Homo sapiens: one gene and its partners. The protein of the gene in region 6 interacts with the protein of the main gene of each other region in a pairwise test. Each region holds a gene or a part of one and is shown on either strand. Other genes may lie near its edges. The genes, in order: STX19, PNKD, AGR2, LGALS9C, PKNOX1, NUP58 and DELE1.

Region 1 (3,188 bases), on a different chromosome or scaffold from region 6:
CATCATTCAGTTAAAACCATTGTAGTGACAGTACAGATTTTATATGAGAACGTTAAGCTATATGGATAATATTGAATTTATTTTAAATTTTCCGAAGCCTCTGAATTAACGTATTACTTGGCATAATGTTTTTTCTAGCTGTTGCATATATGTGAAAACATTGGTTTGATTATGCTGATTTCTCATTCTTAGCATTCTTTTGCAAAGATATCCAGACTGTCTTAGAACAAAATTTATATCAATTTGTGTTAGGTGATACTTTTATAAACATGAGAATATATTTATATACAATCTTATTTTAGGAGTAATAATGATATTGACACTTATCACATGCTGTGTTGGTAGTTATCTGTAAGAATCAAATTGATGTACATAATTTATATTTAATGATATAGATATATATGAAATGACATACATACATATAAAATGAAGGGAATAAAAAGCAGTAAAATGCTATTATCACAGAGCAACTTGATTTTAGAAATGTCTTTCAAGACATTTTTGAAGATAAGAAGAGGCTGTTAGGGAGTACAGATAGCTCATTGGACCACATATAATATTAATATCAACCAGAAAAAAAAGGTCTCTGAATGTGATGCTGTTATGCTGTAGGACTCAGTGTTTGATATGTTTATGGAAATATTTCTATTAATCTGGATGTTGTCATAGGAGGCATACTTAACAAATGTGTAGATGGTGTAAAATTTGGAGGAATCTTTAGTATGTTGAAGTACAGGGTAGGGATTCAAATATTAAAATAGTGTGGAACTTTATACTAAAAATAACAAAAATATATTTAACAGGAATAGATTTAAAATATTTCATCTAGCTATAAGAAAAATATTTTCGTATCTACAGAGTAGAAGACCCTTGGGTTCACAATAGTGTCTATGAAAGTATTGGAGATTTTAATTAATTAAGCTTTCTTTTTTTTTTTTTTGGAGATGGAGTCTTGCTCTGATGCCCCGGCTGGCATGCAGTGGTGCGACCTCAGCTCACTGCAACTTCTGCCTCCCGGGTTTAAGTGATTCTCCTGCCTCAGCCTCCTGAGTAGCTGGGATTACAGGTGCCTGCCACCATGCCCGGCTAATTTTTGTATTTTTGGTAGAGACAGGGTTTCACCATATTGGCCAGGCTGGTCTCAAACTCCTGACCTCGTGATCCGCCCACCTTGGCCTCCCAAAGTGCTGGGATTACAGGTGTGAGCCACCGCTCCCAGCCTAATTAAGCTTTCTGTCAGAACCATCAGAATAGTCACTATGCTTTTATAAATAATAGTCTGATGTATGGATAGACTAAACTCTGCCAACTCTATGCTATTCAGAGCAAATTGCAAGGGTAAGGGGAACTCAATAAACTTCTGAGCATATTTTGAGATGGAAGTTCTTAAGTTAGGAATTACCAGACTAGCATGGAAAGGATGAGATTGGAAAACCATACCAAATGGAGACTCATTGAAATAAATGGTAATATTTGTCCTGTAAAAGAGAAGATGTAGGGTGTGTATACAGCTGTCTTCTAAACAAAGGTCTGTGTATGCAAGTGAGATTAGACTTACTTGGCATAACTCCAAAGGGCAGTGGGTGGAAATTACATGGAAAGAGGTTTGATTCAATATAAAGAAGACTTTTCAAACAAATATTGCTTTCCCAAGATGAAATGAGCTGCTTCATGAGGTGCTGAGTTTGCCATCACTGGACATTTTCAAGATGTTCTGGAATGATGACTCCAGGCAGGCATGTTACAGAAATGATGCCTGTTTTGGGTAAAAGGTTAAACCAATGTCCTGGTAATATTCCTTTGGTTTTAAAGGACTGGTATTTTGTGAAATAGTCATTGAAGTCTTATATGTATATAAGTTTTAAATGCTGTAATATATATTTAACATTTTCTGTCCTTGAGGAATTTATAATTTAGGGTGAGAAGGACAATATACAATTTAAAAGATAAACGGGATAATTTTAGGTTTTGATACAATAATCAGGCAGGGTCTCTAAGCAGATATTTGAGATGTGAGACTGAATGTTGAGAAGCCAGGCAGATGAAGAGCCGAGGGAGTGTATTGTAGGTCTAGGAGTTGGGTTGCCAAGGCAGTGAATGAGACTGATATGTTTTAGGAACAGAGTTATTGCATAAGAACAAAGTGAATGTAGATAGAAAGGAATGAGAGGAGTAACATGGGAAGAATGAAGTAGAAAGGTAGGCATGGACCACATCATAAAGGACTTGTGGGCCAAAGGAAGGAGTTTAGATTTTATTCTAGGTGCAGTAGAAGACAGTTAAAAGATAAATAGGATATTGACATGATTTGTATATATTTTTTCATTTTGATATGTAATTTAAAAAAATTTTAAACTGATACAGGGGTGTCCCTATGTTGTCCAGGCCGGTCTTGAACTCCTGGGCTCAAGCCATCTGTTCGCCTTGTCCTCCCAGAGTGCTAAGATTACAGGCATAAGCCACCATGCCTGGCCCTGATTTATATTTTTAAAAGATGTTGTTGCTTTCTATATAGAGAATAGTTTCCTGGGGAGGGGGTGGGAGTAGTTCACAGAAGAGACTTTAATGATAGAGATGGAGTAAATGGGAACCATCAGGATATATTTTTGAAACTAGAAGCAATAGGACTTGATGATTTTAACCCATCAGCACTTAACACAATCATTTCTTGAGACACTTTGAAGAAAAGTATTTCTCCTGTTTTTTTTCTCTTACCTTTTTGGCTCTTCCTTTATCACTATTTTCTTTTTCCTGGCTACTCCTTATCTCCCCCACCTGTAAATATTGGAAGATTTTAGACTGAGTCTCATTTTTATCCATCATCATTTTTTAGTCTCATGGCATTAAATGCTGTTTGTAAGCTGATGACCCAAATTTGTATCTCCAGTTTAGGTTGCTCTTAAAAAACTGCCTACCTGACAGCTGCATTTGAATGCCTCTATCCAAAATGAGCTCATAATCTTCCTGTGAACCCGTAAACTGCCCCATCTCTCTTCTGGCAACTCTATTTTTCCAGTTGCTCAGACCAGAGACTCAGAAGTCTTTTTTTGTTTGTTTTTTGAGACCGAGTCTCACTCTGTCCCCTAGGCCGGAGTGCAGTGGTGTGGTCTCGGCTCACTGCAACCTCCGCCGTCCGGGTTCAAGCAATTCTCCTGCCTCAGCCTCCCGAGTGGCTGGGACTACAGGCA
Region 2 (4,322 bases), on a different chromosome or scaffold from region 6:
TGGCTCACAGGGTCACCAAAGGAATGGAGATGTGGGGCCTGCAGGCATCACGAAGGAGTCTAGGGGAGCTAGGGAGAAAAGGCTAATCATAGGCCACCCACTCGCCCTCTAGGTACAGCCTGTACACCCGCACCTGGCTCGGGTACCTCTTCTACCGACAGCAGCTGCGCAGGGCTCGGAATCGCTACCCTAAAGGCCACTCGAAAACCCAGCCCCGCCTCTTCAATGGTGAGCTCTGACTGCCCCGGCCAGCATCCCCCATTCTGTGCCCCCACCCTCCCCGCCTGCTCCCCTTCACATACCCCAGCCCCTGGGCTCCCTGCCTGTTACCCCGCCCACAGCCCATCTCTGTCCCCAGGAGTGAAGGTGCTTCCCATCCCTGTCCTCTCGGACAACTACAGCTACCTCATCATCGACACCCAGGCCCAGCTGGCTGTGGCTGTGGACCCTTCAGACCCTCGGGCTGTGCAGGTGAGGGGAGGGCAGGGAGCAGGGGGTGCCTGGAGTCACCTTGGGGACTGGCAGTTTCGCCTTGCTAGAGAGGGCTGACCCTTGTCCGTCTGCCCGTGGGATGTGTCCCATATGCTCCATGTTCACACGTGCACATGCGCACACATAGCCTGGGGAAGGGGGGTACAGGGCATGGCTGGGCAGAAGGGGAGAGCAGGAGTGGGGGATGCAGAGCCAGAGGGCTGGGGGTGTTGGCCCAGGACTCTGGGTCTAGTGAGTTTCCAGGCTGGCTTTCACTCCCATTGGCCCCCTTCAGACCCCCTTTCTTTCTGTCACCTCTGTCTGTCAGTATCTGGGTCTCTCTGTCTTTCCCTCCCATTCCTTATCTCTCTGTGTCTGCCTCTCTCTATGTACAAGTGTCCCTCTGCCTCCATGTGCCCCGTGCTTCACATTCCTGGATCTCTCCCCTCCAGCTCCATCCCTTTCCTCTGCTTCATCTCTCCATGCTCTCCTCTCCTCTCCACCAGCGCCCACACTCCTGGCTCTTGCTGCTTCAAGTGCCTCTTGCATCCTGCTCCCCAGTCTCCAAACCTCCTCTCTCTCGCAGGCTTCCATTGAAAAGGAAGGGGTCACCTTGGTCGCCATTCTGTGTACTCACAAGCACTGGTAAGGGGCTCCCGTCTTCCCTGGCCCACCCTTGTCCCAGCTGGGCTTGCCAGGACTGGGCCCATTGAGGACGGCCGGGGCCAGAGATCAAGAAGTCAGTACGGGCCGGCACCCGCCTTCCTCGTGAAGTCACCTGGACACCAGCAGGGAGGGAGGAGAGGGGACAGTCTCCCACCACTCCATTGATCAAGCTTCTGAAGCCCCAGAGGGCAGGGCAGTCATTTCTCTTTCATTTCATGGGCATGTATTAGATACCTACTGCACACTGGGCATGGACAAAAGTTATGACTCTTCCATCAAGGAAATTCTAAGACCAATAGGGGAGGTAGCCCTGTATCAAAGTATATAACAGCGGAGGCAAGAGGGTTGGGAGTTCAAGCCCAACCTGGGCAACATAGTGAGACCTTGTCTTCAAAAAAGAAGTATGTGATATTTAGGTAACAGTTGGCACAGGGAACAGGGATGGGAGGCCCAGGCACGGTGTGATCAGATCCACTTGGAGAATTGAAAGATGATGACCTGAGCTGAGGGTTCAGGAAGCTCGGCTGGCATTGGCCAGCTTGAGTTGTTGGGGGCGATGTTCTGGGCAAGGGAACAGCTTGAACAAAGGCCTAGAGGTGTGGACAACTTGGCTTAGTCCAGAAGCCACAGCCCCAGCACTTAAAGGCCTGGAGATGCTGTGGTAAAGAAGGGGGCTTAGGTACAGTTGCCCCTCGAAGCCCCCTGCCTGTCTCTGCTGTCCTGCAGGGACCACAGTGGAGGGAACCGTGACCTCAGCCGGCGGCACCGGGACTGTCGGGTGTACGGGAGCCCTCAGGACGGCATCCCCTACCTCACCCAGTAAGTCCCTGACCTAGGCAAGGGATGGCCCTTCCATGGGCCCTTTCCCCCACCCCCAGCCTTCAGTGAAGTGTTTCAGGGGTATCAGCAGGTGGATCTTTGCCAGTGCCCTTCCTGGCCCAATCCCAGCCTATCTGAAGACTGGCACTGCCCATCCCCCAACTGATCCAGCCATAGTCCCCAAAAGAGGAAAGGGGGAGGGTTCGGACCTGAGACCCGAGGCACTGGGGTGACTTCTTTTGTATGGAAGCCCACTCTCTTGTGAATCACCCAGCCCCTTGGGCCTGGGATGGGGACAGGGATCAGCATGGCACAGATCCAATACCTTCTGTCCCCTGCTCCCTTGTTCCCCAGTCCCCTGTGTCATCAAGATGTGGTCAGCGTGGGACGGCTTCAGATCCGGGCCCTGGCTACACCTGGCCACACACAAGGCCATCTGGTCTACCTACTGGATGGGGAGCCCTACAAGGGTCCCTCCTGCCTCTTCTCAGGGGACCTGCTCTTCCTCTCTGGCTGTGGTGAGTTTCCCCGAAAGAGAGAGGAGCTGGGAGAGGAGGGAGAGACAGAAGCCAGGGCAGCCACAGTCCCATGGAGAGCACTGAAGCCTTAGTTTTAGCACAGATGTTGCCGTGGCAGTTACTTCCATCTGTGTTACTCAGATTGGTTTTAATCCTTGAGACTTCCCTTGGGGCACCTTGGGAGGCTGAGGCAGGAGGATCACTTGAGGCTAGGAGTTGGAGACCAGACTGGGCAAAATAGCAAGACTGTCTCTACAAAAAAATTTTAAAATAGGCCAGGCGTGGTGGCTCATGCCTGTAATCCCAGCACTTTGGGAGGCTGAGGTGGGAGGATCACCTGAGGTCAGGAGTTCAAGACCAGCCTGGTCAACATGGTGAAACCCCGTCTCTACTAAAAATACAGAAATTAGCCGGGCATGGTGGTGCATGCCTGTAATCCCAGCTACTAGGGAGGCTGAGACAGGAGAACTGCTTGAACCCGAGAGGTAGAGGTTGCAGCGAGCTGAGATCGCGCCACTGCACTCCAACCTGGAAGACAGAGTGAGACTCTGTCACAAAACAGAAAAAAAAATTTAAATAATATAAATAATATAGGCCAGGAGCAGTGACTCAGGCCTGTAATCCCAGAACTCTGGGAGGCCAAAGCAAGTGGATTGCTTGAGCCCAGGAGTTCAAGACCAGCTTGGGCAACATGGTGAAACCCCGTCTCTACAAAAAATACAAAAATTAGCCAGTGTGGTGGTGAGCCCAGGAATTCAAGGTTGCAGTGAGCTATGATTGTGCCACTGCACTGCAGCCTGGGCAACAATGAGACTCTGTCTCAAAAATAAAAAAGACTTCTGCCAGCTGCGGGACAGAATGGGAGAATGTCTGTAGCTGAGTAAAGCCCTGCAGGGAATTAGTTTCCCCTGGGTGGAGACTGGTTCTCTGATACAGTGACTGGCAGGACTAGGTTATGAAAAGTTAAGAACAGCTAGGTGAGTGGGTGGGTGAGGATCACAAGTCCCAGGCTGCATGAAATCCCAAAGGGCAGCCTAGGCGAAGAAGTGTTCCGTGGGAAAGAGCAGCCCTGCGTCTACCAAGCCTGGGGCCTGCAGCCCGAAGATTCCACAGCCCCTCCCTTCAGGTGTCACTGTGTGCAACGGAGGCCTCGGATGGGCTTGGTCAGGGGGTGACCAGTTGGGCCCAGTTCCCAGTGAGGAGGGAATAGATGCCTGGGGTGGGTCTGGAAAGTGCACAGTCAGGGCTGACGGCCAGCCAGAGCATTACAAGCTGGTTCCCACCTGTCTGGGTGTGCCTTATGCCATATTGTGTTATCCTGGCACCTTGTGACATACCCTCCAACCCCCACCCAGGGCGGACCTTTGAGGGCAATGCAGAGACCATGCTGAGCTCACTGGACACTGTGCTGGGGCTAGGGGATGACACCCTTCTGTGGCCTGGTGAGACACCCCCTTACTACTCCCCATCCTCCAGCCCCACGCTCAGCCTGGGACAAGGGCCTTCCCACCCCCTCACTCCCCTAGAAAGCAGGCCAGCCCAGTTCCTGGCCCAGAAGCGACACAGCTCCACCTCTAGGGGTAGGGACAGAGTTCTGGCCTCCCTTCTTCCTGGAGTGCTGGCTCCGTACCACCTCTGCTTCTCACACTACCTTCCCCTGCCAGTCAGCCTTCAGCCTCTTGGGAGCCTTGCAGGCCCCAGGGCATTCCAGAGAGATGTCTAATTGTTCATAGCCTTAGCCCAGAACAGAAAATAGCCTTTGCTTATCTGGGGAGAAGTCAGTAAATCCACTCTGCATGTAACCATTGCCTTGTGGTGCATAAAAACATTCACAGATATCTGTTAATC
Region 3 (4,511 bases), on a different chromosome or scaffold from region 6:
TATATTATTCTGTTTTCAGGTTGCCATAGATAGAACAGAAGGGTTCATAACCTTTTCCACAAATAGCACTGCACAGCTGTTGATGTTTCCAGCCCTGCATTTGCTACTAACTGCCAGGGGCTGGGTAGTAGAGTGGATGGATCAGAGCTCCTGTGAGTGCAGACACACTCCATTCCCTCACAGGACATGAATACATGAACTTCAGCTCCCCGGGGCAATAAATACAGGTTGTTTGAAAACAAACCATTCCATTCCCTTTTGCTTCATTTATCTTTGCAGACCCATCTCTGACAGTTAGAGCCGATATCACTGGAAGATATTCAAATCGTCTCTATGCTTACGAACCTGCAGATACAGCTCTGTGTAAGTGTGACCTTCAATTCGGATGTTGCCCAAGAGTTGAACACCTCTATTGCTGTAGTGATGGGACTAGAGGCTGCATGGTGAGGTGAGAGAGAGCTAGGCTTAGGGACGCCTCGGACTCAGTTTGACCCTAACTAGCCTTGCATCTTCAGGCAAATCACACTCTTTCCATCTCAGGTTTGTTTGTTTTTAATCTCAATTGAAGATGAATTATTTAGATTAGGTATCTTTTTCTCTAGGAGGATTCTATGACCACATTACCTGATTTTCAGGTTTTCTGTTAGGTACACGAGCACACACTCCTTCTATCACAGAACTGAGTGTAATAATTGTAATAATCTGCATGTCTTAATTTTTTAAATAACAAAAGTGAAAGAATGTGCAGTCCAGCTTAAAATTAAATTCAGGTTCAGTTTAAAGATCAGTTTCAAAGATGATCCAAATGATTGCCAAGAAAATTACCTTCCCTATGGTTGCCATCAATGGAAGAGAGACAGAGAGAGAGAGAGACACTGACTTAAGGCAGATGAGGTACCTCAATGCAACGCTGTAGCTAGCTGTGACATCTGATTAGTCCTCTGGGAAGAAAAGTGGGTTTTATCCTAGGAACCAACTCTGATCAATTAGTAGTGGCTGCCTAGAACTGCACTGTCCAATATGTTAACCATTTGCCACATGTTGCTACTTAAGTTAAAGTTAGAAATTCATTCCTTCAGTCACACTAGCCATATTCCAAGTGCTCAATGCCCGGACACTGAACATTTCCATCATCACAGAAATTTCTATTGGCCAGTGCTGACTTAGAACGTCATGTTGGGAAGAGAAGTGAGGCCGTGTCTAGGAAGCAGGAGAGATCATCATGGTCCATTAGCAATGTTTCCAGTGTGTGCTGGACCAGGGGAAGCACATTCCAAGTACTGTCAGCCATTACTGAGATAATACCATACATTTTAATAAGACTAAGCTCTTAAAAGGCACGTGTCCTACACAAGTAATATCACAATCCCTTGTAGAACAGGCACTTAATAATTAAGATTTGTAGGAAGAGTGAATAAGCGGCTGTTCAATGCCTATCGAGTGGACATCTTATTTTTAGTAGATCACATACCTCATTTTGATGAATTGCTGTTGAAGAAACAGTGACCCAGAGTTTGGGCTCTGGAACAGTAGCTCCATTACTTGTTAGCTGTGTGACCTTGAGCAAGCTACTCAGCCTCTCTCTGCCTGTTTCATTATGTATATATAAAGTTCTAATCGTGTTTGTATGAGGATTAAAGAATTCATCTGCATAAAGCACTTGGTTTGCTATTATTTATATTTCCCCTACTTCTAAAACAATTTACACACACCTACTAATAGACATTTCTTTTAAACATGATTTAAATTTACTTCTAAATGAGCCAAAATTATCTTCTGCTGCTAGAGCTTATAAAAGGATTCTTTTGGAAGTGAGGGTTGGAGATGAAGGATCTGGGAAGGAATGACTACACTAGAAAACTAGATTGTCACAAAAGCCATTTCATATAATTTTTTTAAATTACAATAAGATTACCAACTATTCACCTCATGATAAAAAGCATCCTATCAGGCTGGGCACAGTGGCTCACGCCTGTAATCCCAGCACTTTGGGAGGCCGAGGTGTGTGGATCACTTGAGCTCAGGAGTTCGAGACCAGCCTGGCCAGCATACCAAAACCCCATCTCTCCCAAAAATACAAAAATTAGCTGGGCATGGTGGAGCACACCTCTAATCCCAGCTACTCAGGAGGCTAAGGCTGAAGAATCACTTGAACCCAGGAGGCAGAGGTTGCACTGAGTGGAGATTGCACCACTGCATGCCAGCCTGAGTGGGAGTGAGACCTTGTCTCAAAAAAAAAAGCATCCCATTAAATAATGAATTGAGCATCCAAGTTTGGGGTTTATTATATCGATATAACGCACGATGGTGTCTTGACTCTCCTGCTTTTATCCCCCATTAGTGCTTGACAACATGAAGAAAGCTCTCAAGTTGCTGAAGACTGAATTGTAAAGAAAAAAAATCTCCAAGCCCTTCTGTCTGTCAGGCCTTGAGACTTGAAACCAGAAGAAGTGTGAGAAGACTGGCTAGTGTGGAAGCATAGTGAACACACTGATTAGGTTATGGTTTAATGTTACAACAACTATTTTTTAAGAAAAACAAGTTTTAGAAATTTGGTTTCAAGTGTACATGTGTGAAAACAATATTGTATACTACCATAGTGAGCCATGATTTTCTAAAAAAAAAAATAAATGTTTTGGGGGTGTTCTGTTTTCTCCAACTTGGTCTTTCACAGTGGTTCGTTTACCAAATAGGATTAAACACACACAAAATGCTCAAGGAAGGGACAAGACAAAACCAAAACTAGTTCAAATGATGAAGACCAAAGACCAAGTTATCATCTCACCACACCACAGGTTCTCACTAGATGACTGTAAGTAGACACGAGCTTAATCAACAGAAGTATCAAGCCATGTGCTTTAGCATAAAAGAATATTTAGAAAAACATCCCAAGAAAATCACATCACTACCTAGAGTCAACTCTGGCCAGGAACTCTAAGGTACACACTTTCATTTAGTAATTAAATTTTAGTCAGATTTTGCCCAACCTAATGCTCTCAGGGAAAGCCTCTGGCAAGTAGCTTTCTCCTTCAGAGGTCTAATTTAGTAGAAAGGTCATCCAAAGAACATCTGCACTCCTGAACACACCCTGAAGAAATCCTGGGAATTGACCTTGTAATCGATTTGTCTGTCAAGGTCCTAAAGTACTGGAGTGAAATAAATTCAGCCAACATGTGACTAATTGGAAGAAGAGCAAAGGGTGGTGACGTGTTGATGAGGCAGATGGAGATCAGAGGTTACTAGGGTTTAGGAAACGTGAAAGGCTGTGGCATCAGGGTAGGGGAGCATTCTGCCTAACAGAAATTAGAATTGTGTGTTAATGTCTTCACTCTATACTTAATCTCACATTCATTAATATATGGAATTCCTCTACTGCCCAGCCCCTCCTGATTTCTTTGGCCCCTGGACTATGGTGCTGTATATAATGCTTTGCAGTATCTGTTGCTTGTCTTGATTAACTTTTTTGGATAAAACCTTTTTTGAACAGATCTTTTGGCATTATTAATTTTTCCAGGGATATATTTTCAATCTTTTCTATCTCTCCTAGTGACTACTATCATTAGTAGGTGTTGAGCATATACTGCTGATTTAATGACATACAAATCTTCAGCAAAAATATCACAGGTTAATCAGCTCCCTTCTCACAAGTAGATAACTTACATGTGCTGAAAAAGGTAAAACATTCCATTTAAAAAGATCTCTGAGGGATAACAAGAGGAAAAAGAGGTTTCCCTTCCATAAACAAATATTTTAAATGACAAGTTCTAAGTGATTCAAGTTTCTCCTATAGTATAGCAAAATATTTTTTCATTGGGCGGACGTGAAATAAGGTTAACTTCTTAAAATGTATTGAATGGCAAAATATCTTAACACATACAAATACTTTTTAAATATAAATAAATATTTAGGAAATCAAATGTTACAGCTGTAAGGAAAATAAGTCCCCCTTTTAAAAGCATTGAAGAAACACAAAGCATGAGTCATTAATTGACTTTGTCCCATCAGTCTCCTCCACCACTGAGAATTTATCCTAAGGAAATCATTCAACAGAAACAGTTCTGTCAAGATGCCAATGGTAACATTATTTAAACGTACCACAGAAAAGCAACCTCCCAAAAATATAATGGCCACATGGTATATTAAGACAAAATGCAGTTTTTTAATCCTGTCTAGGTGAGTAGTCATAAAAATTCTTCTCTCCCTCCCCCTCCCCCTCCCCCTCCCCCCCCCCCCCCTCTTTCCACGGTCTCCCTCTCCCTCTCCCTCTATTTCCACGGTCTCCCTCTCATGCCGAGCCGAAGCTGGACTGTGCTGCTGCCATCTCGGCTCACTGCAACCTCCCTGCCTGATTCTCCTGCCTCAGCCTGCCCAGTGCCTGCGATTGCAGGCGGGCGCCGCCAGGCCTGACGGGTTTTCGTATTTTTTTGGTGGAGATGGGGTTTCGCTGTGTTGGCCGGGCTGGTCTCCAGCTCCTAACCGCGAGTGATCCGCCAGCCTCGGCCTCCCGAGGT
Region 4 (4,322 bases), on a different chromosome or scaffold from region 6:
TCCACCCTCACTGCAGCCTCCTCTCTCCCTCCCTCCCTCCCTCCTCAGTTGTTAATAAGCCCCTCACCTGCACTCTATCCCCACTGAGCGACCGGCTCTTCACTAAACAGGCTGTGCGTGCTCCTTCCCCTGTACTGTTCCCTGGCGTAGAATACTGTTCCCACGACATCAGGGACAGGAGCACTGGCCTGTGCCATCTGTATCCCTCGGACCCAGCACACAGGAGTGCTCTGGGCCTGGGCTCCTGCAGCATCAGCCTCCTAACTTGTCTTTTCCACCCCAATGCCTTCTCCATGAGGCAGTCAGGGTACAAATGTTAAAACCTCCTGCCCTTTGCAATAGCTGACACTCCTAACACACATGCCATGTGTAAGGCACTGTCCTAAGCGTGCTACAGATACTGCCTCATTCCATTCTTACAGCTCTAGGAGATTCATATGATTATTAGCTCCATTTTGTAGATGAGGAAACTGAAGCACAGAGTAGCTAAGTCACTTGCCCGAGGTCACACAGCTGTCCACAAATCAAAGAATGTTGCTCCCTGGCTCCATGGCTGCAAAGCCCTACATCAGTCATTTTCAACTCTGATTGCAGAGTGTAATCACTTCAGGCATATTTTAAAAATACAAATGCCCAGGCTGACCGCCTCATTGGCCTGGGCTGGGGTCCCAGCACCTATATGTTCTTTGTAAGCTCTCTGGGTGATTTGAATGTGTAGTCAGGGCGGAGCACGCCTGCTGCTGTTCCTGGAGAGGCCACACCCACACCTCTGCATGTTGGCCCTAGCTGCCCCTCCCAGGCTCGCTCTATCTCATCGCTCTGTTTTGCTTTCTGCGTGGCACTGTTGTTATCTGCAACAATCTGTTCATGCTTTAGTTTCCTTGTTCCTTCCCCCAGCTAAATTGTAAACTCTCTGGAGGAAGGACCCTACGTGTCTGCTTCATGACTGCGCTCCCAGCATGTGGAGTGCTTCCTGCACAAAGCGGGCGACAGTGAAATCGTTGAATGAGTCAGTGAAGAAATGAATAACACCTCCTTCTTGGGTCTGATTTGACACTTACTGACTGTGTGACCGCAAGCAAGTAACCTGCACTTGTGAGTTTCTTTCCTCATCTAAAAAAGCAGATCCCAACGCTTCCTTCATGCAGGACAGTAATAATTATTAATAATAATGACAATAATTTTTTGGCCACCTTTTCTTCTGGGCCCTCATCCCAGAGGCATCAGCTCCCATCCTGTTCAAGGTACCCCAGACCTCCTTTACCCCCTCCCCGTGTACCCATAGGAGCCTCCTCAAGCTCCAGGCTGCGGCGCCTTACCGAGAAGCTCTGGCCTCGGACGAAGGGCATTTTTCGGGGCAGACTTCGCTCCTCAGACCCCCAAGAGTTGTTGATCTGGGTGTTACGGACCACAGCATTCTCATCAAAACGGGGGTTCATGTGGAAGGCGATGTGGCTCCCAGAGCACAGGTTGATGTGGAACCTGGGGTGGGCAGCCTACCTGGACCTTTGTCCACTGAGTTCTGAGCCCCATTTCCTCCCCATCATCCCCAGCCTGCCAAAAGCCAGGGGAATGGCTGGAATGACCTTGAAGGGCTCTCTCTTCCCAGAGGTCACTGGAGCCTTTGGCTTACCTCTGAGCACTGGGCAGGACAGTGCCTGACAGGATGATGGACTTGGATGGGTACAGCCCTCCCGGAATGGTGGTGATGAAAGGCATCGGCTGTCAGAAGGACGGGGACAGGTCAGCCAGTGGCAGTCAGGGCAGCCGCCACATGGAAGGGGAAGATTGTACCAGTTCCCATGAATTTAGGCTGTCAGCTGAGAAGAAGCCCACGATATCTTTCCTTGGTTCCATAAAAGCCAAAGGAAAACTTTCCGGTGCTCCTCAAATTAATGGGCTTAGATTAGTGTCATGAAAGGAAATTTGGCCAAACACAGAAAGAAAGACTCGTGGGGTGAAAAGGGAGGGCCATGCAATGTGCTCACGTTGACACGACAGTTTTAAGGTTGAAAGCTCCTCTCCACAGTCTTCTAATTCACTGGGACGCTTTGAAGCCCTTCAGCTTACCATTTTGAAAGCCCTTCGCTTTTCATTTTTCAAGGCCAGCGGATCCCCCCGTAGCGGCCCTTCATCCCTAGCCTGCCCACCACAAACAGAACCTCTGCCCTCCCTGAGAAACCACTTACATAGGCAGGGTGGGGGTACATCATAGGTGGGATGGCGGGAGTCTGCTGAAAAGAAACCAGGAAATTCAATGGGAGAGCGCATGTGTGCGCGAGCACTCACCCACGCGCACCCACGCATTCTAGAGGGGGCTCCACTGTGAGGCTGACCTCATGAGCCTTTGGCCCTTGGACTCTCCCGTAAACCTCCGTTTTCATGTTAGCCTTCCTGGAACTTCCTGCCGTGTTCCCAGACCCCACCATGGTCACCTGCCCCTCAGCCCCTCCGCAGGCAGCCCCACTAATGCTAAGTTCCCGGCCTGATTTGCACCAGCAGGAGAAGAGCTTAAGCCTGTGATCTGTAGTGACATCCCGGGGACCCAGGAGGCAGGGCCAGGAACCTCACATCCGGGTGCTGGGGCCACTGCACTCCCCACTTGGTGACAGAAGGACCAGTTTCCCTCCCAGTCTCTAGGGAACCTGCCTCTTCCACCACTGGATAAATCCAGAATCTCTGCTGTCCCAAGGATAGTTTTAACCACATGTCACCTGAGCCAAGGACTCAGCCCCAGATGTCCCCACCCTCCTTGCTAAACCGCTTTCTTCCCAACTCTAGGGCTCTAGGGAGTTTAGTTCTTGGGGAAGGAGGGCACTGTGCAGCTGTGAACTGATCAGAACTTGAAGACTTACAGAGAACATCTGTCCAGAGGCACTCTGCACCGTGTGGATGACTGTCTGGGTCTGGAAGAAAGAAACCAGGTCTCACCCAGGCTCTCCTGAGTAAAGACCACCCCAGCTCCCACCAGAGGGTGCCACACGGCAGGCACCCTCCAGGGGCATAACCAGCCCAGTGGCCCCACAGACCCCACGGAGGGTGGGTCCAGGGGACGAGGGAGAGGCAAAGGTTAGGACCCTGGAGAAGACAGATGGGGACGCTGGTGGCTCTGGCCCATCTTTCCTCTCGGGGAAACGTCTCTCAGCCTAGCCTCCCTTTGCAGGTGAGAGAAGTGAACGTGGGGCATGGTCTTCCGTGGCTGCCCATGGAGTGGCAACTCAGGTTGTTCCATCACGGCCAGCCAACCACATTCACCCACCAACCTCGCCAGGCCGGGTAGATGGTCAAGGGCCTGGCCTCTGCCCTCCCCACTCCCGATGGGAGAGGCCCAATGCCTGGCCCTGCATCCTCCATTAGCCCAGAAGAAGAGCCAAAATCAAGAGGATCCAAAAAGAAAGCAAGAGACTTACAATGGGAGCTGGGTTGGCAGGCCGCACGCTGGGAGGCTGGAGGGGTGAGGAGAGTCAGAACGGTGGTTATTGCGGGCACCACAGAACGGGGAGAGACGATGGCAGAACTCCAGGGAGGCTCTTGTGCTCAGAAATGCCTCCCCAGACACACCCACCTCCCTCTTGCTCCCAAGCAAGCCTTCCTGAGCCCGTGGCACCCAGATTTTTACCCTCAGGTGCACAAGGCTTTGGGGTTGAGGGGTAGGGTATCCCCACTGGTTCCTCTCGAGAGAGAGGAGGCTGGGTTTGATAGAGACCTCATTGCTGTCTGTAGCTCCCACAGCCAAGAGCATTACTTCCGGTGCCATATTTCACCCGTAAGCTGAGAAGTGGTATTTGTTGAAGGCCTATTGTGGGCCGAGTCCTGGGCTTCAGTGCTTTCCAAAGAGGGAAGCAGCCTCAGCTCCTGTGTCCCTGGTGAGGCAATGAGGCTCAGAAAGATTAAGCAACTTGCCCAAGCTTGCCCGGGTGGAAGGGATCAAATCCAAAATGGCAGCCAATTCTGTCTGACTGTATCCAGCACACTTTCTGTCATCCCTAGGGCCAGGGCCAGCGCCAGGGCCAGGGCCAAAGTTTGGCTGCCCTGCGAATGTTCCCTGGGGCTCCACCAGTCCTGAAGTCAGCGTGGCAGGAGGCAGGTGCACTGTCTGTACCATCATGGGCCATAAAAAGGCTACATAGACAAAGCGCCCCTCCTCCCAGTCCCCACTGCTTGAGTGGCCAGAGGAAGGGCTGCCCACCTCCTTGTCGTGGATCCTGCCCCACCCAGTAGACTGTTCTTGCCCTGGCTGGTATCCCATTCTCCCTGGCTGCGAAAACCACATTCCACATTCATCCATTCTTCGAGTCCCTAAGTGAGTGCCAGGCACTGTG
Region 5 (4,322 bases), on a different chromosome or scaffold from region 6:
AGCACTTTAAAGGAAATAAATAGATGAAGAAGAGAACAAATTATTTTGAAATACAGTTATTAAAATACTGTATTGAACCAAATTGGTGATAGTCCCATTTATTAGCTTAGTAACCGGATTGAGCTGTGGCTCTGGTAATTCATTTGGGAGTAGTGACGAGATTTTTTGTGACACTCTAATGCTTTGGAAAATACCTGTTGCTGTTCCTGCTAAAACTCCAGGGCTTATTGTCTGCCTTTGTAATTGAAGGAGTGCTACATTTCAGCTAGAAGTTTTTGCCTTTTATCATTCATGTTCACAAATACCAAGTTGATTTACTCTCAGCCTATCCATTTGTAGGAATATATGGTGTCCTTTCTTTACTTCCTCAAATGATTATATTGATGACAAAAGAGACAAGGAAATAAAAACGGCACAGATAGGGGAACCCAAAGCCTAACAGTGTGTGTCCTTGGAGGTGAGGGTGAAGGAAGTGGCTGCAGGCCCTGGGAAGTACCATCTTGCATCCGTGTGCAGCACTGAGTGGATACCTCATGGTTCTGTCTTGTGTACACTGTTCAGGAGGACATGTAGAGTGGACATATCACATAGAAGAAGGTCAGTCTGGAAACTGTTAGGAGAAGCACTCAAGGGCTGAGAGGCATGGTCCTTGGTGGAAAGAGCCAGCAGGCCTGGTGCTGGCGGTGCCCTGCTCGTGACAGTGTGCAAAGTCTGGAGCCTGGCCTGTTCCCGCCCTTGGCAGATGGTAGCTCCTTGTTTTGGATTATTAGCCCCTGCCGGTTTAGTTACTGTTTCTGGAAGATTCACATAGAAGGCAGTGTGGTAATTCAGTCAACGTGTTGTCTGGCATGTGGTATAAAACTCCTGTTTAAAGCTCTGATTCTGAGGCCATGCCTCAGGGACTTGAGAAGGGGACAGAGCAGCTTATTTTATTTTATTATTTATTTTATTTAATTTTAATTTTATTTTATTTTGAGATAGGGTCTCACTTTTTCACCCAGGCTGGAGTGCAGTGGCACGATCTCGGCCCACTGCAGCCGGGAGCTTCTGGGCTCAAGTAATCTTCCCGCCACAGCCCCCAAAGTAGCTGGGATTACAGGCACGTGTCATCACACCCAGCTAATTGTACTGTTTGCCGTCTGCGATTGACGCTGGAATGATTGGCTGTTTTAGTCGGGTTCTCAGGGTGGCAGGGAGCAGGCTGACTTCAAGTTGGGTGGGTGGTGAGATAGGTGGTTCAGGATCATGCAGGGATAAAGAAAACAGGAGTCTATGGGATTCTTGGGACCACTGTATTGTTGCTGGGCCTCTGGGCAGATGGAACCATGGTTTGTGCTCTGGCAGGATCCAGTTCTGCACCAGGGCTCTTGGCCTTCCGCTTCAATTAGGTGGTTGCCCTCCACTGTCTGTTCCATCTGTACGCTCCCCTCACAGTGGGGGCTCACCCAGCCTTACCTGCCCTGTACTCTCCCTTTTCCAGCACCCACCTCAGAGAGAGTGCCTGTGCTCTTTCCCCTCACACCACCTACCAGGCGCTGACCTTCGGGCTGGGGGCTGGCCTTGGGTGTTGCAGGGCTACCTGGCCCAGGGAGTGGTGCTTGGGGAGGAATGAGCTTCTGACACCTGCACAAGGAAGGCCCCCTTTGAGCAGGGCCTGCCAGTGGGGTTGGGTCACTCAAAGGGGCTGTGGATTGGTAGGTACTATGATCACAGTTTCCAGAACATAATGCCTGAGTGAGCGCATGTGTTTTGTTACATGTTCTCTCAGACATTTTATGAAGGTTTGTACATTTTTTTGCATTAAAAATGTTAGGAATTTAACTTGACAAGAAAAAGGAGCATAAGGCCGGGTGCAGTGGTTCACGCCTGTAATCCCAGCACTTTGGGAGGCCAAGGTGGGTGGATCACCTGAGGTCGGGAATTCGAGTCCAGCCTGAACAACATGGAGAAACCCTGTCTCTACTAAAAATACAAAAAATTAGCCGGGTGTGGTGGTGCATGCCTGTAATCCCAGCTACTTGGGAGGCTGAGGCAGGAGAATCACTTGAACCCAGGAGGTGGAGGTTATGGTGAGCTGAGATCGCGCCATTGCACTCCAGCCTGGGCAACAAGAGCGAAACTCCATCTCAAAAAAAAAAAAAAAAGTTTAATAAACATTAAATTGCTAAACTTTACGTTCTTCTAAATTTAGTTACGTATTTGAGCATACTTTTTTTTCCCCCACGAAACAGGGGCTTGCTCTGTTGCCCAGGCTGGAGTGCAGTGGTGCAATCTTGGCTCCCTGCAACCTCTGCCTCCCGGGTTCAGGCAATTCTCCTGCCTCAGCCTACTGAGTAGCTGGGATTACAGGTGCCCACCACCACGCCTGGCTAATTTTTGTATTTTTAGTAGAGATGGAGTTTTACCATGTTGGCCAGGCTGGTCTCGAACTCCTGACCTCAGATGAGCTGCCCACTGTTGCCTTTCAAAGTTCCAGGATTACAGGCATGAACCACTGTGGCTGGCCTTTTTTTTCCAATTTTTTGTTATGGTAAAATACACGTAACAAAATTTACCATCTTAACCATTTTCAGTGTGCAGTTCAGTGGTGGTAAGTTCATTCATACTTTTGTACAGCCATCACCACCATCTGTCTCCAGAACCCTTCATCTTGTAAAACTGAAACTCTATACCCATTAAACACTGCCTCCCCATCTCCCCTCCCTGAAGCCCCTGGCAACCACCATTCTACTTCCTGTCTCTGAATTTCGCTACTATAGGGACTTCATACCAGTGGAATTAGGTAGTATTTGTCTTTTTGTGACCAGCTTAGCTCATTTACCATAATGTCCTTAAGGTTCATCTATGTTGTAGTGTGTGTCAGAATTTCCTTCCTTTTTAAGGCTGAATACTCCATTGTGTGGATATACTGAATTTTGTTTATCCATCCCTCAACAGACACTTGAGTTCCTTCTACCTTTTGACTATTTTGAATAATAAAACTGTGAACCTGAGTGTGTAAATACTTCTCCGAGATCCTACTTTCAATTTTTTTGGATATAGATCTAGAAGTGGGATTGCTGGATCATACTGGAATTCTGTTTTTAATTTTTTAGGGAACCTCCATCCGATTTTTCGCAGCAACTGTACTGTTTTATATTCCTTTTAATTTAATTTATTTTTTATTTTTCCAAGGACTCAATAAGGAGAGAGTATCAGTTTACATTCCTACCAACAGTACAGAGGTTCCAGTTTCTCCGTATCTTACCCAACACTTATTTTCTTATGTGTTGTTGCTTTTTTTAATAGCAGCCATCCTAATGGATTTGAGGTGGCATCTTACTGTCATTTTGATTTGTATTTCCCTAATAATTAGTGATGTGGAGCATCTTTTCACATGTTCATCGGCCATTTACATGTCTTTGGAGAAATATCTCTTCAAGTCCTTTGCCCCTTTTTGAATTGGGTTTCTTACATGCATACGTGTGTGCGTGTGTGTGCGTGTGTGTGTGTGTGTGTGTGTGTGTTTTAAAGAGACAGGGTCTCATGATGTTGTCCAGGCTGGTCTCCAACTCCTGGGCTCAAGTAATCCAGTAATACTCCTGCCTCAGCCTCCCAAGGAGCTGGGACTTAAAGACATGGGCCCCTGTGCCTGGCTATGTTCATACGTTTTTACATATTTTTTAAGCTATATTGTGTTATGCTTTTAGTTGGCATTTTAGTGATTTTTAAAACATTTATATAATCCACACATTTCTCGTTTTAAAAATTTAAGGTCTCATACACTTTTGTGAGTCCAGTTTTTTTCTTTTTCTTTTTTTTTGAGACAGAGTTTTGCTCTTGTTGCTCAGGCTGGAGTGCGATGGCATGATCTTGGCTCACCACAACCTCCACCTCCTGGGTTCAAGCAATTCTCCTGCCTCAGCCTCCCAAGTAGCTGGGATTACAGGCATGTGCCACCCCGCCTGGCTAATTTTGTATTTTCAGTAGAGACAGGGTCTCTCCATGTTGTTCAGGCTGGTCTCGAACTCCCGACCTTAGGTGATCTGTCTGCCTTGGCCTCCCAAAGTGCTGGGATTATAGGCGTGAGCCACCATGCCCGGCCAGTTCCAGTTTTTTGTATTATTTTACGGCCATGCTCTATGTTGTGGAGCCTTTTGAGTATTTAGGTTTTGATACTTTCTGTGTTTTGCCATCCGAAAGCTGGAGTCCCTCTGACCCACCAAGCTTAGTGCTGACAGGGAGAGTAGAGAGGGGTGGCTGCTGTGCAGGGAGGGAGTGCAGGTGCCAGTTCCACAGTGCTGTGTGCCCAGTGTAGGCAGTGCCTGAGAGAGGCTGTCCAT
Region 6 (4,322 bases):
CAACCTCCACCTCCTGGGTTCAAGTGATTCTCATGCCTCAGCCTCCTGAATAGCTGGGACTACAGGCACGTGCCACCATGCCTGGCTAATTTTTTGTATTTTTAGTAGAGACAGGGTTTTGCCATGTTGCACAGGCTGGTCTCGAACTACTAAATTCAGGCAATCCTCCCTCCTCGGCCTCCCAAAGTGCTAGGATTTATGGGCATGAGCCACTGCACCCAGCCTGAATATTTTGACTCTCATAATAACGTTAGTTTTAAAAATGTATTTAAGTGAAATGTTCAAGGTAAGTACATCTTTTCTAACTAACTGAGCAAATGTAATTAAACTCTTTAATCTTGGAGTGTATGTGGTCCAAAATACCTTTAAAATTCAAGCAGCGAAACCTGAGTCTAGATAAATTATCAACTGTGTAGAATAGAGTTTAATTGGAATTATCAACATTTTCATTTTTATTTTGATTTCATGCATAGTAACAGGATTTTTTTAAGTAAACCATTTAAATTACACCATTTTTGAAATGGTAGTGCACTTTAGACCTTTTGCTTTAGTAGATTTAAAACTGTAACCCAAATCTTTAAATTTTGTTCTAAAGGAGGAATTTTATCAGATTTAAAAAAATTCTATTAGTCTATAATAAATGTTACTTTAATTTTTTAATAAAATTAATGTATGGCACTTTGAAGTCCGTTGCACAGAATTCTTTTCCTTAATTTTTATTATGAAATCTTTCAAATATACACAAAAGTAGGCTATCATTATACTGAATGCCCAGGTATGACTACCTAATTGCAACCATTATCAAAACCCTGCTGAACTTGTTTTATCAATGCTCCACAGAAGATGCTTTTTTTCCCCCCACGAAGTATTTCAGAGCAAATGCCAGGTGTAAACGTACATTTTTTTTAGCAGCACTGTCTCCTCTCTGGTTTGGAAAATATATCATTTTTGGTAATATGACCATAAAACAGTGAGACCAAGACCACATAAAACTGCCCTAGATCACGTCAAATAAACGTTGTAGACATGAAATTTTGACCTACTCTTTAAGCAACCCAGGAACGAAAGGATATTCCCAAGAACCAAAGAATATTTTATAATCAGATTTGGTATGTTGCCATTATTTTTAGCTTAGTTTAGTGAGCAAACTAAGCTCTAGGTTTCTTTATTTCTTGTAGAAATCTCACAAGACATTTTTTTGTTCGTTTTGTTTTTCATTAGGTAATCTGTTGAAACAGGCGTTAACTATTCTATCCAGCCAGGCCTCAGGAACATTAACACATTTGGAAGTTTTAGCAATTTGTTTTATAAATCATGGCTGATGTCAAGGTTTTTGTTTGTTTGTTTTATTATTTTGTTTTGTTTTGTTGAGAAGGGCTTGCTCTGTTGCCTATGCTAGAGTGCAGTGGCGTAATCATGACTCATTGCAGCCTCAATCTCCTGGGCCCAAGCGATCCTCCCGCCTCAGGCTCAGCCTCTTGAGTAGCTAGGACTACAGGCATGCACCACCACACCTAGCTAATTTTTTAACTTTTTGTAGAGAGGGGCACTTGCTGTGTTGTCCAGGCTGATCTTAACTCCTGGCCTCAAGGAGTCCTCCTGCCTAGACCTCCCTAAGGGCTGGGATTATAGGTGGGAGCCACCGCGGCCAGGCTGTTTCTTTTAACTAATGGTCTTGGTCTTAAGTTTCTAAGGTGGATCATTATTTTCCATTATCTGAAGTAGAACTAAAATTTATGGGATACTGATGCTTGCCCAGGACAAGGAAGGGTGGATTTGCAAGAGATCGGTAGTGCTTGTTTTTCTTACATCATATGTCTTGATTCTGGCTTTGTATCTTCCCCAGTATCCAGTTCTTGGCAGGCCCCCTTTTTTAATACATCATAAATGTAGCAAAGTTTGGAATTGGAACATCAAACACTGACATCCACACAAAAAGGGCGATGATAGCTTTTAAATACTATAAACAACAGTAAGATTTTTAAGTGCTGTATTTGTTATAATCAGAACCTAATGTTTACTAATTTCTGCTAAGAAATGTAAGAAATATGAAAAATCTGTGTCTCTTCAAAAAGTGGTTAAAAACCTATCTAAATTAGGCTAAATCTTCAATGAAAGCATAAAATAATTCTAAAGTGAAACAGAATTGTTGCTGTTGATGGCCTTAATCAAAGCAGATGCTGCATTGGGTAAAAGCAGCTCACTTTATGAACTTGGGAATTTTTCTTACTCTGGAGTTACAAACACTTTTTTTCTTTGAGGCGGGTGGTTGGGTTCATAACTTTAACATGAATCAAGTCTCATTGTACAATGGTCAAATAATAGCAATAAAGTAGAAGCCCTCATCATACCCTCCAACCACTGCTGAGGTGCAACACCTTATTTTAGCATGTGTTACCCAGGCCTTCTAAAAAATGTATTTAAAAGTATGTATATTTAGTGCTGACTTTTTTTTCTTTCTTTTTTTTTTAAACTGTTTTAATCAAAAGGCTATGAAAAGGTTGGACATTTGAGGGGAAAGTTTCTTGAAAAACTGGAATATTTATTTTTAAATTCTTTTCATCCATCCATCTGCACATTGATGGAGTATTTAAATATTACTCTGTCTAAAAGCTTAGCTGATTTATTTTAAACAAGGCCTCACAAAGACAGTATTTTAGGAAGCATATTGTAAAGATAGGGAGTAAACTATTCAAGGGAGCAGTAGAACTCTTGAACTCATCATTTCCTACACCAAAGTGCATTATTAGCACTCTAATTTGCAGTTTGGATTGAATGTATAATATTGGGACTGTCTTTGGTAATTTATGGTTATATTCATCCACATATTAACCATAGTCAATGTGAAACTTCATTTAGCCGTTTTGTTTATTATTCTTTTAGGTTCTGAAAGAACAGTACCTTGGCTACAGGAAAATGTTCTTGGGAGATGCTGTTGATGTGTTTGAAACAAGGCGAGCAGAAGCCAAGAAGTGGCAGAACACACCCAGAGTTACTACTGGACCCACTCCTTTCAGCACCATGCCAAACGCAGCAGCCGTTGCCATGGCTGCAACACTTACACAGCAGCAACAGCCTGCTACAGGTCTGAACGCATTCAAGTTATAGCTTCTTACTGTTCCAATGCAGAACATTTATGTGCGTTTTTATAAGTCTTCCATTTGTGTGAGCACTGAAGAAATTTCTATGAGTAGCTGTTCCAATACAATCTAAAATTGTGATGGACACGATTATAAACATACCTGATAAAAAAGGCAGGGTAGTCTTAGCAATAATTATACATCAATTAGATATTGAATATTGTGAATCTACTTAATGTTATTTGCTGTAATGCTATAAATGCCCTTTAGAACATGGTGTTTCACTAGTGAATTACATTTAAGAATAACATTAGATTCTGAAATCATGACTGTACCATTTATTGTTTTAAAGTCAGAGATCATCCATCCATTCTTTGAATTTTTCATATATGATACTGATAGGTGGTGCATTCTCATTTTCCTCATACATAGTGATTACAAAGTACCCACATTCAGGATGAAGTATGCTTTTATTGACTGAAGGTATGTTGAAGATCAATAGGCTTGTTTGTATGTATGTTGACTGTAAACAGAATACAAGCCCTCTAAACCAAATTTTGAAGATGATACATGCTAGAATTGTACCTTTCCAAGGTGAACAGAACAGCAAGAGCAGGAAAAAGATGTTTTGAGATGTGGATTGCACATTAAGGAGCAACTGGGAAGTTGAACAGATGAAAATAATTGGTGACATGGAAAGCAGATTGTTTTATTTCTTGGTTTAGTTACACTTCTAATTAGAGAAACATTTTTTGTGGTCATTCTACAGTGTTTTATTTGGTCCTGTGTCTTTCGGAGGTTAATAGTTATCTTAATCCTGCCATCCCTTTTGTCAGGTTTGAAGCTTGACATGGAAAAATAGTCTTAATCGATATTGATTTTTTTATTTTAATCATTCATAAATTTCTTAGTAATGCTTACTATTCAATAGCATGTGTCTTTCTGAGAGTTCCATATAGTCCAGTAGTACATTATAATACACACAAAAAAATTAATACATATTTAGATTGCATTCAAGCTACCTATACTAGGGAAGCATTCTCTGGTTTTCACTATTGGCAGTTTAAAAAATTGTTCTTCACATTTGGAGATGACAGAATTGACTTGCCATAAGTAAAGGGTTGATGATAGATTTATGCCAAATCCTCCATATCCCGTGGCTGGACCCATGTGAATAGTGGCTCGCACGAGCACTGTCTGGTAGCTCTCTAGCTGGCTGGAGTGTAGGATTGCATTGTTAAG
Region 7 (4,322 bases), on a different chromosome or scaffold from region 6:
CTGAGTGTTTCCTGTAGCCTTCGTTGTGCATGCTTTCAGCCAGCCTATGCAAGAGAAGCCTCCACACTGCCCTGGCTGGAATCTCCCTGGGTGGAGGGATCCCCCTCTCCTTTGTGTTGGGTGAGCTCTGAGCCTCTGGCATTTCGTAGTTGAGATCCCTTGCTATGGGGCGGGCCAGGACTGGGCCTTGACCGTGTGTGGATGAAGTCCCAGCATGCCTGACTTCATCTTCCTCCTCCCTTAGCATGTCAGTTCCTCATTCCTGCATGTGTGTATCTGTTTGTCTGTCCATTTTCTCCTTAGGACTCACAGAGCAGGTACCACCTTGGAATTTGCTATGAGAAAGGCCTTGGTGTGCAGAGGAATCTGGGAGAGGCCTTGAGATGTTACCAGCAGTCAGCCGCTCTGGGAAATGAGGCCGCCCAGGAGAGGCTGCGAGCCCTCTTTTCCATGGGGGCTGCAGGTACAGACCCAAGTCCAAGCCAACAGGTTCATTCCCTGAGCTCAGTACTCTGTGACAGATAAGTAGGTAGCAGTAGTCTCTGGTCTCCTAGTCATTTCCAACCCCAGTGGTGGCTAAGAATGCAGCTTTTGGGATGGGCACGGTGGCTCACGCCTGTAATCCCAGCACTTTGGGAGGCCGAGACTGGCAGATCACCAGGTCAGGAGATCGAGACCCTCCTGGCTAACACGGTGAAACCCCGTCTCTATTAAAAATATAAAAAAAAATTAGTTGGGCGTGGTGCGGACCCTGTGGTCCCAGCTACTCGGGAGGCTGAGGCAGGAGAATGGCGTGAACCCGGGAGGCAGAGCTTGCAGTGAGCCGAGATCGCGCCATTGCACTCCAGCCTGGGTGACAGAGCAAGATTCTGTTTCAAAAAAAAAAAAAAAAAAAAGAATGCAGCTTTTGGAGTCAAGACAAACCTGAGTTTTTTTTGTTTTTTTTTGAGATGATGTTTCACTCTCGTTGCCCAGGCTGGAGTGCAATAGCGCGATCTCGGCTCACTGCAACCTCTGCCTCCCGGGTTCAAGCGATTCTCCTGCCTCAGCCTCTCAAGTAGCTGGGATTACAGGCACCCACCACGATCCCTGGCTAATTTTTTGTATTTTTAGTAGAGTCTGGGTTTCACCATGTTGGCCAGGCTGGTTTTGAACTCCTGACCTCAGGCGATCCACCCGCCTCGGCCTCCCAAAGTGCTGGGATTACAAGTGTGAGCCACCGCGCCCAGTCAAACCTGAGTTTTAACCCCCACTATCACTGAACTTGGACTCCATGGCTTAGTGCCTCAGTTTCTTCACCTCTGAAAATGAAGGTAATGGTAGCACCTAACTCATTAAGTTGTCATAAGGATGAAATGAGATGACACTAAGGGACTTAGCACAGCCTGACAGCACAGTAGGTATTGAACAAATGGTAGCTGCTCTGATGATTTTGTAGGAGAGACAATATCCCAAGGTTGCCTGAATTACCCTTCTAGGGCTCTAAGAGCCCTGCTCACTCATGAGTCACTGGGGTTGGGAGTTAACAATGCCTGGGGAACCAAGCCCTTGAAGAAGTGCTGGCTCCAAAGTAGGAGTCCAAGAATATACAGCAAGAGTAAGAGTTGCTCTCACCTCTTCTTGTAGCCCCGGGGCCCAGCGACCTGACAGTTACAGGACTGAAGTCTTTCTCCAGCCCCTCCCTCTGCAGCTTGAACACCCTGCTAGCAGGAACCTCACGCCTACCACATGCCTCGAGCACAGGCAACCTTGGCCTCCTCTGCAGAAGTGGGCATCTCGGAGCCAGCCTGGAAGCCTCCAGCAGGGCTATTCCCCCACACCCCTACCCACTGGAAAGGAGTGTTGTAAGACTAGGTTTTGGCTAAGGTGAGATAAAACATAGTCCCTGGTGCCTCTTAGGGGCCAGAGCGGGCAGGAGGTTGGATAACAAAAATAGAGCATCAGCAACCCTTTCCAGGTAGAAATTCCAGCGGGAGTTCAGGTTCCCAAGCAATTTCACGTACATGGCTGGTAAGTGACTGATCTTTCCCCCCGCTTGGTAGCCTCACAGATGAGTCTTGGATGCATTCACAGTCATTTCTGGTCTGTGCACCAAAGGATGCATTCAGTGACCTATGAAAAACCCTACTGAAGGGTCCAGAGACCCTGGTGCTCACCTTAGCCTTTGTCTTTGAGCAAATAACTTACCTTCTTCCTTCTTATGCCTGGGTTTTCTCACACTTAAATCTGTACTACTGTTTGCCAATGTCTGATGTGTGTATCCCTGGTTCACAAGAAGATTTTAGATGGTATTCAAATTAATATTTTCTATTTAGTTATATATTTAATGTATAATATAAAAATATGATTAGCATATTGACCTGTAGTTTGATAGATGTTCTGTCTAGGATAAAGCTAACTGTAAAAAAAAATAGTGAATCAGTTTAAAGAAAAACATAACGTAAAAGTGGGCACAGATCCAGAGAGGTAGCAAAAATCACAGGGGTGGTTCCATGAATGGCTGACACTTAGGAAACTCTGAATTAGGCCATCCTCGAGACTAGCCCACCATTCACCTCTGTTCATCCCCCGTGGGCTCATAATCGTTTTCATTTCACCTTTGATTTGGAAGGAAGAAGTTTCTTGCCCAAATGCCTGGATGTGTCTGCTTGACTTTCAGAACTTCTCACCTCAGCCCTAAAGAGGGAGCCTGTGGGTTCTCAGAGAGATATCACAATTTGAGTCCCAAAGAAGAGGCCAGATACCCACCCACCTTCCCCCAAATCTTAAGCACCTGCGCCAGTACAGTCAAGAAGAGGAAAGTGTGTGAAGACCCAGGTCTGGCTCTGCCACTTGCCTGGCCATGTCACCTTGAAGCTGTGACCTGACTCCCTATATTGTTTCCTCAGTTGTAGACCAAAGGCAATGGTGTCTGCCCTCCTACCTTAGAAGACAAATGCAAGGGCATTTCACCACAGAGAGGACCTTTGTGCTCACTTTGGCCCAGGAGGCAGTGATGCTCATGGTTGCATGACTTTATGAGTCGCTGGGCCAGGGTGAGGACCTGGGCCTCCTGACTCCTGGCCCAGAGTTCTTGTCCATCAGTTCATACTGCAATTTTATGTGAAAGCATTATGACTGTCCTACCCATGGGAGAGTAAATGTAGATTGAATGCTAGGAGTCTTAAAGCTGGAGAGTATAGATTTTGAGGTCCCCATTTGGGAAACATGTGCCAGAAATGTCTAGGTGTTTAATAAAACAGATATTGGATTATCTCATCACTCTTGCCCTTGAGTATTATGGGAAGAGCCAGGGAGACGGGCAGGGGGAGCTGAAAGCTGAGGCTCCGTCCTCATCTCTAAACTCTCCACTAACCAATTTAAAGGATCTTAAAAGCTTCTCCAGGAGAGAGACTTAGGAAAAAAAAAGATTTCTGAGTCAGTGCTAATGAGTCCAGTTACTGAATTTGTGAATAGCTATTCCCTGGCTTCTGGATGTTAGCCCAAGTTGAATAGCATAGATGTGGTTGAGAGTGGGGTCTGGGAGGGATAGAGAGCCCACCGCCCACCCCCCACAATCCCATGACTGAGTGGAGACCAACCAGCCTGGCCAATTCAAAGGCAAGAAGATTTGAGGGGGGAAAGTTGTCCACGTTTCCCTCTCTGCTTCCCACCCCATCTCTCTCAACTTCTTAGTGGTCCTGCCATACTTTCCTAGCACCTCTCTTTCACCCGGGGAGCCCAAGCGTCCTCTAGCTCCATCTCCTCGCCTGCTCCCTGCCTCCTTTTCAGGGCTGCCCTGCACACTGGCTCACCACTGTTGGACCCTGCACATGGCCACCTTCCACAGATGGCACTCCTTGGGAGCAGGGTCCTTGTCTTTGTATTCCAGTGTCCCCAGCACTGAGTGCAAGGCCCCATGCAGGGTAGGAAACCTGAGGTTTCAAGCTCAGGGTTTTAAGCTGTGCAGTGCACTAAGCTCTCTGCCAAAAAACAAACAAAAAAAGGTTTCTGTGGTTAAATAAGTTTGGGAAATGCTGCACCAGACGTCCCCTTTTTATAGATTCACAATACACATCAGCATATTTGAGGTTCCAAGAAGTCCTCCAGTAAAGAACTTGGTTAACCCAATGTTTTCTCTCACTGAATTGAGCCCAGAGCCCGTTTCCCTACAGATTGCTTTTGAGCCTTCCTGGGGCACCCTCTGCGTGAAATGTCACCGTGTGCCCTCCCTGTGGAGCCCCACTCCCCAGCCTCCTCCCCTCTGTGGTCATTTTGGATTTTCTGACTACTTCCTTCTAGCCATAGCTGGGGCCGAGGGCTGGTTCACAGTCTGGCCACTG

The links.
Region 1: the proteins of NUP58 (region 6) and STX19 interact in binary tests that used the Homo sapiens proteins (3 or more experiments, as listed by UniProt).
Region 2: the proteins of NUP58 (region 6) and PNKD interact in binary tests that used the Homo sapiens proteins (3 or more experiments, as listed by UniProt).
Region 3: the proteins of NUP58 (region 6) and AGR2 interact in binary tests that used the Homo sapiens proteins (3 or more experiments, as listed by UniProt).
Region 4: the proteins of NUP58 (region 6) and LGALS9C interact in binary tests that used the Homo sapiens proteins (3 or more experiments, as listed by UniProt).
Region 5: the proteins of NUP58 (region 6) and PKNOX1 interact in binary tests that used the Homo sapiens proteins (3 or more experiments, as listed by UniProt).
Region 7: the proteins of NUP58 (region 6) and DELE1 interact in binary tests that used the Homo sapiens proteins (3 or more experiments, as listed by UniProt).

Annotation. Positions count from the first base shown.
Region 1 is NC_000003.12:94,015,724-94,018,911, forward strand, and holds part of STX19 (syntaxin-19), read right to left. Parts: intron 2,776-3,188; exon of another isoform or gene 2,716-2,775; intron 1-2,715. UniProt on the Homo sapiens protein: Plays a role in endosomal trafficking of the epidermal growth factor receptor (EGFR).
Region 2 is NC_000002.12:218,339,671-218,343,992, forward strand, and holds part of PNKD (probable thioesterase PNKD isoform 1 precursor), read left to right. Parts: intron 1-112; coding exon 113-228; intron 229-358; coding exon 359-471; intron 472-1,057; coding exon 1,058-1,116; intron 1,117-1,863; coding exon 1,864-1,956; intron 1,957-2,240; exon of another isoform or gene 2,241-2,310; coding exon 2,311-2,474; intron 2,475-3,829; coding exon 3,830-3,916; intron 3,917-4,322. UniProt on the Homo sapiens protein: Probable thioesterase that may play a role in cellular detoxification processes; it likely acts on a yet-unknown alpha-hydroxythioester substrate.
Region 3 is NC_000007.14:16,790,788-16,795,298, reverse strand, and holds the end of AGR2 (anterior gradient protein 2 homolog precursor), read left to right. Parts: intron 1-279; coding exon 280-363; intron 364-2,341; coding exon 2,342-2,391; 3' UTR 2,392-3,488; downstream 3,489-4,511. UniProt on the Homo sapiens protein: Required for MUC2 post-transcriptional synthesis and secretion. May play a role in the production of mucus by intestinal cells. Proto-oncogene that may play a role in cell migration, cell differentiation and cell growth. Promotes cell adhesion.
Region 4 is NC_000017.11:18,489,857-18,494,178, reverse strand, and holds part of LGALS9C (galectin-9C), read right to left. Parts: intron 3,447-4,322; coding exon 3,411-3,446; intron 2,907-3,410; coding exon 2,856-2,906; intron 2,235-2,855; coding exon 2,190-2,234; intron 1,723-2,189; coding exon 1,634-1,722; intron 1,483-1,633; coding exon 1,320-1,482; intron 1-1,319. UniProt on the Homo sapiens protein: Binds galactosides.
Region 5 is NC_000021.9:42,980,604-42,984,925, forward strand, and holds part of PKNOX1 (homeobox protein PKNOX1), read left to right. Parts: intron 1-4,322. UniProt on the Homo sapiens protein: Activates transcription in the presence of PBX1A and HOXA1.
Region 6 is NC_000013.11:25,328,474-25,332,795, forward strand, and holds part of NUP58 (nucleoporin p58/p45), read left to right. Parts: intron 1-2,883; coding exon 2,884-3,085; intron 3,086-4,322. UniProt on the Homo sapiens protein: Component of the nuclear pore complex, a complex required for the trafficking across the nuclear membrane.
Region 7 is NC_000005.10:141,936,895-141,941,216, forward strand, and holds part of DELE1 (death ligand signal enhancer precursor), read left to right. Parts: exon of another isoform or gene 1-120; intron 121-303; coding exon 304-463; intron 464-1,626; coding exon 1,627-1,865; 3' UTR 1,866-2,611; coding exon of another isoform or gene 2,612-2,680; 3' UTR 2,681-4,322.